Regions from separate parts of the Homo sapiens genome. Here region 2 is reported to be linked to region 1. Evidence: microRNA targets listed by miRTarBase, many of them from high-throughput screens and not tested one by one. Region 1 holds a microRNA gene; the other region holds the end of a gene's coding sequence.

The links. Region 1 holds the annotated microRNA hsa-miR-6798-3p (CUACCCCCCAUCCCCCUGUAG, at 2,704-2,724, shown strand). A microRNA usually pairs through its seed, bases 2 to 8, with sites in the 3' UTR of a target mRNA and lowers its output. Matches are read on the target gene's strand: a 7mer-m8 pairs with bases 2 to 8, a 7mer-A1 pairs with bases 2 to 7 and ends in A, and an 8mer does both.
Region 2: the mRNA of EID1 is a reported target of hsa-miR-6798-3p. The part of its 3' UTR that is shown has no 7-base or 8-base seed match.

What each region holds. Positions count from the first base shown.
Region 1 is chr19:49,007,249-49,011,638 of GRCh38, forward strand. MIR6798 (microRNA 6798) reads left to right here and starts at 2,658; the gene lies at 2,658-2,724. It overlaps RUVBL2 (RuvB like AAA ATPase 2), which reads left to right. Exons shown (of 15, transcript NM_006666.3): 6 at 54-120; 7 at 2,528-2,634; 8 at 2,725-2,818; 9 at 3,240-3,363; 10 at 3,751-3,845; 11 at 3,944-4,062. RefSeq lists an enhancer at 2,192-2,693.
Region 2 is chr15:48,878,027-48,882,416 of GRCh38, forward strand. EID1 (EP300 interacting inhibitor of differentiation 1) reads left to right here and starts at 108. Exons shown (of 1, transcript NM_014335.3): 1 at 108-2,147. The coding sequence starts at 151. The coding sequence ends at 714. All of the region lies in intron 4 of SHC4 (SHC adaptor protein 4), which reads right to left. RefSeq lists an enhancer at 63-362.

The DNA.
Region 1 (4,390 bases):
ATTCCCGAGGGTCCAGGTGTCAGGCTGTCTCCTCAGATCTGCTCTCTGGCTAGGGAGGAGACGGAGATCATCGAAGGGGAGGTGGTGGAGATCCAGATTGATCGACCAGCAACAGGGACGGTGAGTCTGTGTGAGTCTGTACCCTGCTGAGGCCACCTCCAGCGCCAGGGTTGGAGAGAGTAGATATCAGGTCTGCACTGAGGTCAGAATCCCATGGAATGTTCTAGCTGCAGACTAGAGCCATGTACATGCCTACAGTAGGAGGTCAGTTAACTTGACAATGGCTTATCCCCTTATGAAGGACATTATGGGCAATAGAAACTGAGGCGGTAAAATAATGAGAGAGATCTGTTAGTGAGTTCCCAACAGACCTCAAAACCCAACAGACTTCAAAACTCGTTCCGTGGCCGAAAGGCATGTCCTGTCCATCTTACATGATACAGGTGATTTGCTCTCTCTTTTTTTTTTGTTTTCGAGACAGAGTCTCCCTCTGTCCCCCAGACTGGAATGCAGTGGTGCAATCTCGGCTCACTGCAACCTCTGCCTCCCAGGTTCAAGTGATTCTTCTGCCTCAGCCTTCCGAGTAGCTGAGATTACAGGTGTGTGCATGCCACCACGCCCGGCTAATTTTTGTACTTTCAGTAGAGACGGGGTTTCACCATGTTGGCCAGGCTGGTCTTGAACTCCTGACCTCGTGATCTGCCCACCTTGGCCTCCCAAAGTGCTGGGATTACAGCCGTGAGCCACCATACCTGGCCTCTTTTTTTTTTTTTTTTTTTTTTTTTACAATTTCTGTTTTCTCCTTTTTGCATAGCTGTGTTTTCTGATTTTGTGATCAACAAAAACACTTTTTATTTGGGTATAAAATAGGAATGTCAAAGTGTGACATTTGGCAATTTTGCGAGACCTCGGGCCTATGTTGTTTTTGATAGACTTTATTTTTTAGGCATGTTGTTTGTTTACTATTTTTATTTTTTATTTTTATTTTATTTTATTATAATTTTTTTTTTGAGATGGAGTCTTGCTCTGTTGCCCAGGCTGGAGTGCAGTGGCACAATCTCAGCTCACGGCAAGCTCTGCCTCCCGGGTTCATGCCATTCTCCTGCCTCAGCCTCCCGAGTAGCTGGGACTACAGGCACCTGCCACCACGCCCGGCTAATTTTTTGTATTTTTAGTAGAGACGGGGTTTCACTGTGGTCTCGATCTCCTGACCTTGTGATCTGCCCGCCTCGGCCTCCCAAAGTGCTGGGATTACAGGTGTGAGCCACTGCACCCTGCCTGTTTACTATTTTTATTAAGAGCTTTATTGAGTTTTGGCCAGGCGCAGTGGCTCACACCTGTAATCCCAGCACTTTGGGAGGCTGAGGTGGGCGATCACTTGAGATCAGGAGTTCGAAACGAGCCTGACTAACATGGTGAAACCCTGTCTATACTAAAAATACAAAATGGCTGGGCGCGGTGGTTCATGCCTATAATCCCAGCACTTTGGGAGGCCGAGGCGGGTGGATCACCTGAAGTCAGGAGTTCAAGACCAGCCTGACCAACATGGTGAAACCCTGTCTCTACTAAAAATACAAAAAATTAGCTGGGCGTGGTGGTGGGTGCTTGTAATCCCAGCTACTTGGGAGGCTAAGGCAGGAGAATCGCTTGAATCTGGGAGGCAGAAGTTGCAGTAAGCCGAGATCACACCATTGCACTCCAGCCTGGGCAACAAGAGCGAAACTCCATCTCAAAAATAAATAAATAATAAAAACACAAAACAATTAGCTGGGTATGGTGGCACACATCTGTAATCCCAGCTACTTGGGAGGCTGAGGCAGGAGAACTACTTGAACCCGGGAGATGGAGGTTGGAGTGAGCTGAGATCACACCACTGCACTCCAGCCTGGGCGACAGAGCAAGACTCTATCTCAAAAAAAAAAAAAAAAAAAAAAAAAAAAAAAAAAAAGAGCTTTATTCACCAGGCGCAGTAGCTCACTCCTGTAATCCCAGCACTTTGGGAGGCCGAGGTGGGCAGATCACAAGGTCAGGAGATCGAGACCATCCTGGCTATCACAGTGAAACCCCATCTCTACTAAAAATACAAAAATTAGCCATGCGTGGTGGCGGGCGCCTGTAGTCCCAGCTACTCGGGAGGCTGAGGCAGGAGAATGGCGTGAACCCGGGAGGCAGAGCTTGCAGTGAGCCGAGATCATGCTACTACACTCCAGCGTGGGCGACAGAGCAAGACTCCGTCTCAAAAAAAAAAAGAACTTTATTGAGTTTTAATTGACATACAGAAAGCTGTACACATTGCAAGTGTCCAGTATGGTCCGTTGGGACATACATGTTCAGCCGCGGAGCCATCACCGCGTCAGGCTGGTGAGCGCACCGTATGTCTTCCCTGGAGAGCTTCCTTGTGTTGTGCCCATTTTGAAGCTGTGGAAGCAGAGGCCAGAGCAGAGCCAGAAGCTTATCAACACTGGGGGCACTGGGGCAACATCAGGGCCCTCTCTGAGCCCCATCCCTGGCTTGTCCCCACTCTCAGGGCTCCAAGGTGGGCAAACTGACCCTCAAGACCACAGAGATGGAGACCATCTACGACCTGGGCACCAAGATGATTGAGTCCCTGACCAAGGACAAGGTCCAGGCCGGGTGAGCAGTCAGGGGCCATGCCAGGCAGCCAGGGGGATGGGCGAGCTTGGGCCCATTCCTTTCCTTACCCTACCCCCCATCCCCCTGTAGGGACGTGATCACCATCGACAAGGCGACGGGCAAGATCTCCAAGCTGGGCCGCTCCTTCACACGCGCCCGCGACTACGACGCTATGGGCTCCCAGGTGCGGCCGGGACTCCCGGGATCCCCTCGCCCCCAGCACTGGGGTGTTTTCATCTCCTCCATCACCCCCTTGACCCATGGGGTCTGGATCTTCCTGTTACCCTGACTGTTTGTCCTGGTACTCCTGGGTCTTCCCTGTAACCCTAGGACAGCAGGGCCCCTCAGCCTGGCACTATAGCTTCGCATGGCCACATGTGGCCTGTGGCTTCTAAGGTCCTCCGGGAGCCCCCGTGACCCTCAGCGCTCTGGAATGTCCCTAGTCCTGACTACCTCCTGGGCCTGGGGTTTCCAGATGACCCCATTTAGCCTCCCAGCTCCATTTCCTGGAGCTCCAGTCTCCCCCAGACAGAGGGCTTTAGGGGCCCCCTTCATGCCCTTCCCTGCCCTGTCTCCGCCGTTCTTCCCCCACCCCCGCCCCATAGACCAAGTTCGTGCAGTGCCCAGATGGGGAGCTCCAGAAACGCAAGGAGGTGGTGCACACCGTGTCCCTGCACGAGATCGACGTCATCAACTCTCGCACCCAGGGCTTCCTGGCGCTCTTCTCAGGTGAGGCCCCTCCTGCCCTGCCCTGCCCTGCCCTGCCCCAGGCCTAGCAGCCTCCCTCGGGCTCCCTCTGTTCCTGAGCTCCGAGTGTGGCCCACCTGCTCCACGCTGTTTCCTGTAACTCCGGCCCGTGGCTGCCTCTGTTCTCCACCTGCAAGTCCGCTCCGTCCCCACCCCTGCTGGTGCTGTGATGGGTGTGGCCCTGCCCTCTCCCCTCCTGTGTTCTCTGCCTCTGTTCCTCCTCTTTGGGGATGTTTCAGGCTCCTCATCCCTCCTTGCTTTGCTCCCCTTCCTCCATCCCTGGCATCATCCTTCTCTGTCTTAGCCACACTCTGGCCCTGGAACCCGCCTCCTCTCTGGCTTCCCTGATGCAACCTGTGCCTCCCATAGGTGACACAGGGGAGATCAAGTCAGAAGTCCGTGAGCAGATCAATGCCAAGGTGGCTGAGTGGCGCGAGGAGGGCAAGGCGGAGATCATCCCTGGAGTGAGGACCCAGGACATGGCCGGGGCGGGTGGTGGGGTGGAGGTGGGCCGGGGAAGTGGGGACGCGGGTGGTGACTCTCACACACACCCCAATCCAAGGTGCTGTTCATCGACGAGGTCCACATGCTGGACATCGAGAGCTTCTCCTTCCTCAACCGGGCCCTGGAGAGTGACATGGCGCCTGTCCTGATCATGGCCACCAACCGTGGCATCACGCGGTGAGCCGGCTACAGGGGCCTCTGGGGAAAACAGGATGCTCTGGGCAGTGGGTGTGGTCAGAGGGTCAATGGGAGCCTGTGTTGACACCGGGTCAGGGAGGGACGCGTGACTGCAGTGTGCGCTCTTTGCTTACAAAAGGCGGGTGGGAGGCAGCTCTGCTTCCCGAGGAAGCCCAGAGACTGTGTTCTTGCTGCCTTTCTGTCTTGCTGCTCCTTTAGCCCCCAAGGCTGCAGTCTTCAAACTGCGTGCCGAGGCACCCCAGGGTGCTGCAGGAAACTCACAGGAGTGCTGTGGGATGTTTTCTAGTCTTGAGGGAAGCACAGTGAC
Region 2 (4,390 bases), not on the chromosome of region 1:
GTGGCGCGCCAAGTAGGAGGCGGTACCTGAGGACCACGCCTGCGCGCGGGGTTACGCAAGCGCGCAGCCTTTGCGCACGCGCACGAACGCACGGCCGCGCAGCATCTGTCTTGCTGGAAGCTTTTTCCTAGAGGTTGAGCGGTTTGCACAATGTCGGAAATGGCTGAGTTGTCCGAGCTGTATGAAGAGAGCAGTGACCTGCAGATGGATGTGATGCCTGGCGAGGGTGACCTTCCGCAGATGGAGGTAGGCAGCGGGAGCCGGGAGCTATCCCTGCGTCCCTCCCGCAGCGGGGCCCAACAGCTCGAGGAGGAAGGCCCAATGGAGGAGGAGGAGGCCCAGCCAATGGCGGCGCCAGAGGGGAAACGGAGCCTTGCTAACGGGCCCAACGCTGGGGAGCAGCCAGGCCAGGTGGCGGGCGCAGACTTCGAGAGCGAGGACGAGGGCGAGGAATTTGATGACTGGGAGGACGACTACGACTATCCCGAAGAGGAGCAGCTCAGTGGTGCCGGCTACAGAGTATCAGCCGCTCTTGAAGAAGCCGACAAGATGTTTCTGAGAACAAGAGAACCAGCCCTGGATGGCGGGTTTCAGATGCATTATGAGAAGACCCCGTTTGATCAGTTAGCTTTTATCGAAGAGCTTTTTTCACTGATGGTTGTCAATCGTCTGACCGAAGAACTCGGCTGTGATGAGATTATTGATAGAGAGTAGTTAGATGCTGTTAAAAGAGGAGGAAACTACTTGAGGAGGGACCCAACTTTCCGCTATCTTTTGGGTTCATTCCAAATAGTTTTGTGCCATTGAAAAACTTGACCTTCAAAAAAATTTGTTTTTCAGAATAGAACACAATAGGACAGTGACTGCACAGTTGTGAAAAAGGAAGAGAATCATTAAAGAAAAAGAAAAAAGATTTTAAGACCGTTGAAATCAATTATCAAGAACGTCCTAAAACACCTATGGCTTTGACTTTGTTATTGATCCAGATTATTTTCCTTGCATTGGGGAAAATATCTTTCATATTTGTTTGCTGTAAAGATGGTTTTGCAAGAATAAGTCATGACCAAGACAAACTGCCAATACAAAAGCCCACTGATACTAATTATATAATGAGAAAAAAATGTATCCAACTAGGACACATATCTTTTGAGTTATTTGGACTGAAAGCTTAAGAAAACTTGGAAAATTCTATTTTGTGATCTAGTCAAGCCACAGTTATCAAAGGCTACATTTTCAGTGTAAGATAAATGGATGAGTAAACTCAAATATGTATCACGTGTGCTTTGTATCTTAAGATGTGTTTCCAAGAGCATCTGAAATTTTGTTTGTACATGTATCTTGATCATTTATAAAGCCACTGTGATCTATAAATCAAGAAAATCCATTGTCATAACCATTTTTAAAAGTCAAAAATTAAGACATCCTTAATTAAAAAGTTTCAAATCTAGACACTAAATGTGTGTGAATGTACAAAGAAAACAAACCATTGCTTATGCTGTTATATACTAGAGAAATTTTGTTTTGCTTGCTGTTTTAACTTGACAGATGAAGGACTTTAGTTGAACTTCATATTGTAAGAACTGTTAATAAAAGTTGTCAAGTAAAAAGCGCTATATCTAAAAAGACTTTATGAACAGTTATTCTATCAACTTTTAAAGGTTTTAAACCTGCCCAGAAATTACCTTGGTATCTGAAGTTTCCCTCTGTCTCCTCCTCTAATTAAGCTTGTTATTTGTCATGCACCAGCATTGGAGATAATAAAATTTCTTGTTCTGTGTATTTTGTTTGGCTAATAGTATTGCATACATACTTTCTCTGTATACTACTTTCTATTGTATGTGTTAACCAGTATTAAGGGAAAATGATCCAGCTTCAGCTATCTAATTCACAAATTAATTTCTGGAAATTAAACTTTGTAAATTAAGTTTTTGCCTATAAGAATTTGCTGGTCTGGGAAAACCTGCCCTATCAATGAGTATGTTGCCGTGGTTACCTTACTAAGATGCTGAAGTTCTAGGAGAGTAATGATTACATCAGAAGGCTAGGTTCAGCAAAATAAGTGTATCAGCAGGTTTTATCATGATCAGTAAAAATGTTCCAAATGCTTCTGCTCCATTATAGCAGTAAAGAACGAATATCCAATGCAACAGGACAATTCAGAGCCTTATTTATTTTATGGTCATCCTGTCTTTTGGGGAGAGAGATCTGTAAAAGATAGGACTGTGACAAGGCTGATCAGAATTGCTCAGACACTAGCTGGGTTAGGAGGGAGAGATGGTGGAAGTAAAATGTTGGTGCTTAGACTTAATCCTACTGCCTCTTCCACTGCTTTCTCAATTAGCGTGCAGCTACGGTCAGATGAGTGTGGATAGGTAATTAATTGCATGGATGATGTAAATTAGTGTGGGTGGGGGTATGCTAGTGCACAATAAACTGGCTGGTTGTATTTACCTCCAGATCTTTATCTTTACCAGGAAAGTTTATCTTTACTAGGAAAGATAAACTCTTGGAAAAAAAAATCTGAGGTCCACAAACTAGAAGGTTGTGATTCTGTTTTTCTCTGGGACTGAGTAGGGCAAAGAGGTGGGGGTGGGAAACACTATTCCATCTGAAGGCCCATCTTGGGGAGAAAAACCTGGGCTCTGCAATTGACTTGGTTGTTTTTCAGTCTTAAAAATAGGCAGTAAGCTGAGAGACAATGAAAATTGTAAATACTTACTTGTATTTATTGAGGATAGAAAACATTTTAACACCCCTTTTAGGGGTGTAAAATTATTTGTGTTTCTTTTACATGCAGTTGCCACAGACAAACCAGACTACTTGGTTAAAATTTGGGTTCTACTATTTATTAGCTCAGTAACTGGGAAATTAATCTCTCTGGCTCATGTCCTAAACTGAAAATAGGAACAATTGGATGTACCTTACAAATTGTGAGGACTAAATGATGATGTGTGTGAGAGTGTGTGTGTGTGTGTGTGTGTGTGTGTGTGTGTGTGTCTTCATTTAAGGAAGCTAGAGAAAGGAGTTCTGGGGAAATTCTGATTTTGCAAGGTAGGGGATTTAAAGAAGATTTTGAGTACACGGTGTGATTAGGGAGAGTTTTCCAAATTTATCCATACATATTATAAATGTTCGCTTAGATCAGATATCCCATGTTGACTGTCTTCAGGCCACAGATCTATTTTGTTTGGTTCATGCTTATAATTTTAAGAGACCAACATCTCAGTACAGAGACAGCAGCTAAAAATCTAGATTCTTACCTTTTTATTATTATTTTTTTAAAGTAAAAGATCTGGGAGCCTTTGACCTATAGACCTATGTAGCCAACAAACAAACAAAAAAACAAAGCAAAAAAAAAAAAAAACCATCTGATTCACCTTTAGATAAGGAAGATTCTGTTTGCCAAGTCCCTCAGTGTTGTCTCCCCAACACAGAGGCCAGGTAGCACTTGACATTTATCATTGGGCCTGCACCATTGTTTTTTCTTGTGCTTGCACAGCTTGCATTACCTACTTGGCCTCTAAATATCTCAAGTTGCCTCTCCTTGTAGAGACTAAAGGATGTCTCAATTTTTGCCTGTTTTACCTTAACTCTATTACCCTTCTGAATTCAGTACCTGTTAGAGTTGTAGAAATCAGTAAAGAATTAGTGGGAGTGTGAGCAACTGAGACTCTGACTTTGCTTGAGGCCCTAAAATACTATATTAAAGTATGTCAATAAAGTCTGTTGCTTGAATTTTAAAACAAGGAAATACCTATAACTTACCCTTGCAAAAATGTATTCCCATCCTGAAATATGGTAATATTTAAAAATTGCAAGCATCGCATGTTTAATATTTTCTGCCTCTGGAGGTTTGTAAAATATTTTCTGGGAATGAATTGTTATATTCTTGATGTTCTCAGTGGCCAAAGATAAATGTGAACTATCCGTTCCATAAATGCTATCATCTATGAATATATCCATAAATTTGAACCTTTGTTTTCAGTCCAAAGCATATCTTAGAAATTAAGTGGGGATGGGGAAGGCATTAGTATTTCTTTGTATTTATTTTAGAACTTCCAGTGGTAGCATTAAGGATTTAATTAATCCTTTTCTTGTGCTGTATCCACAAGGTCTCTCATCTTTGCTGCCTTCATTTCTTAAACATTTTAGTTGCCTTTCTCATGGGAAATAAAGCTTCTTGAGTTGAGGCCTCTACAGTGGCACATCTCTCCCCCATATCCCCCAGCCATTTCCCCTAGGCCTGCAGGAAAGCTCAAAATAGTTATTAAAAATCAGCCCTCAGGTCTGAGATAAATGAGATCTTAACTTTGGTCCCCACTCTAGCAGTGGGCTGAATACAACCCATTCCATGCCACCAGTGCAGAAAAGCTATGGATTACTTTCAAAG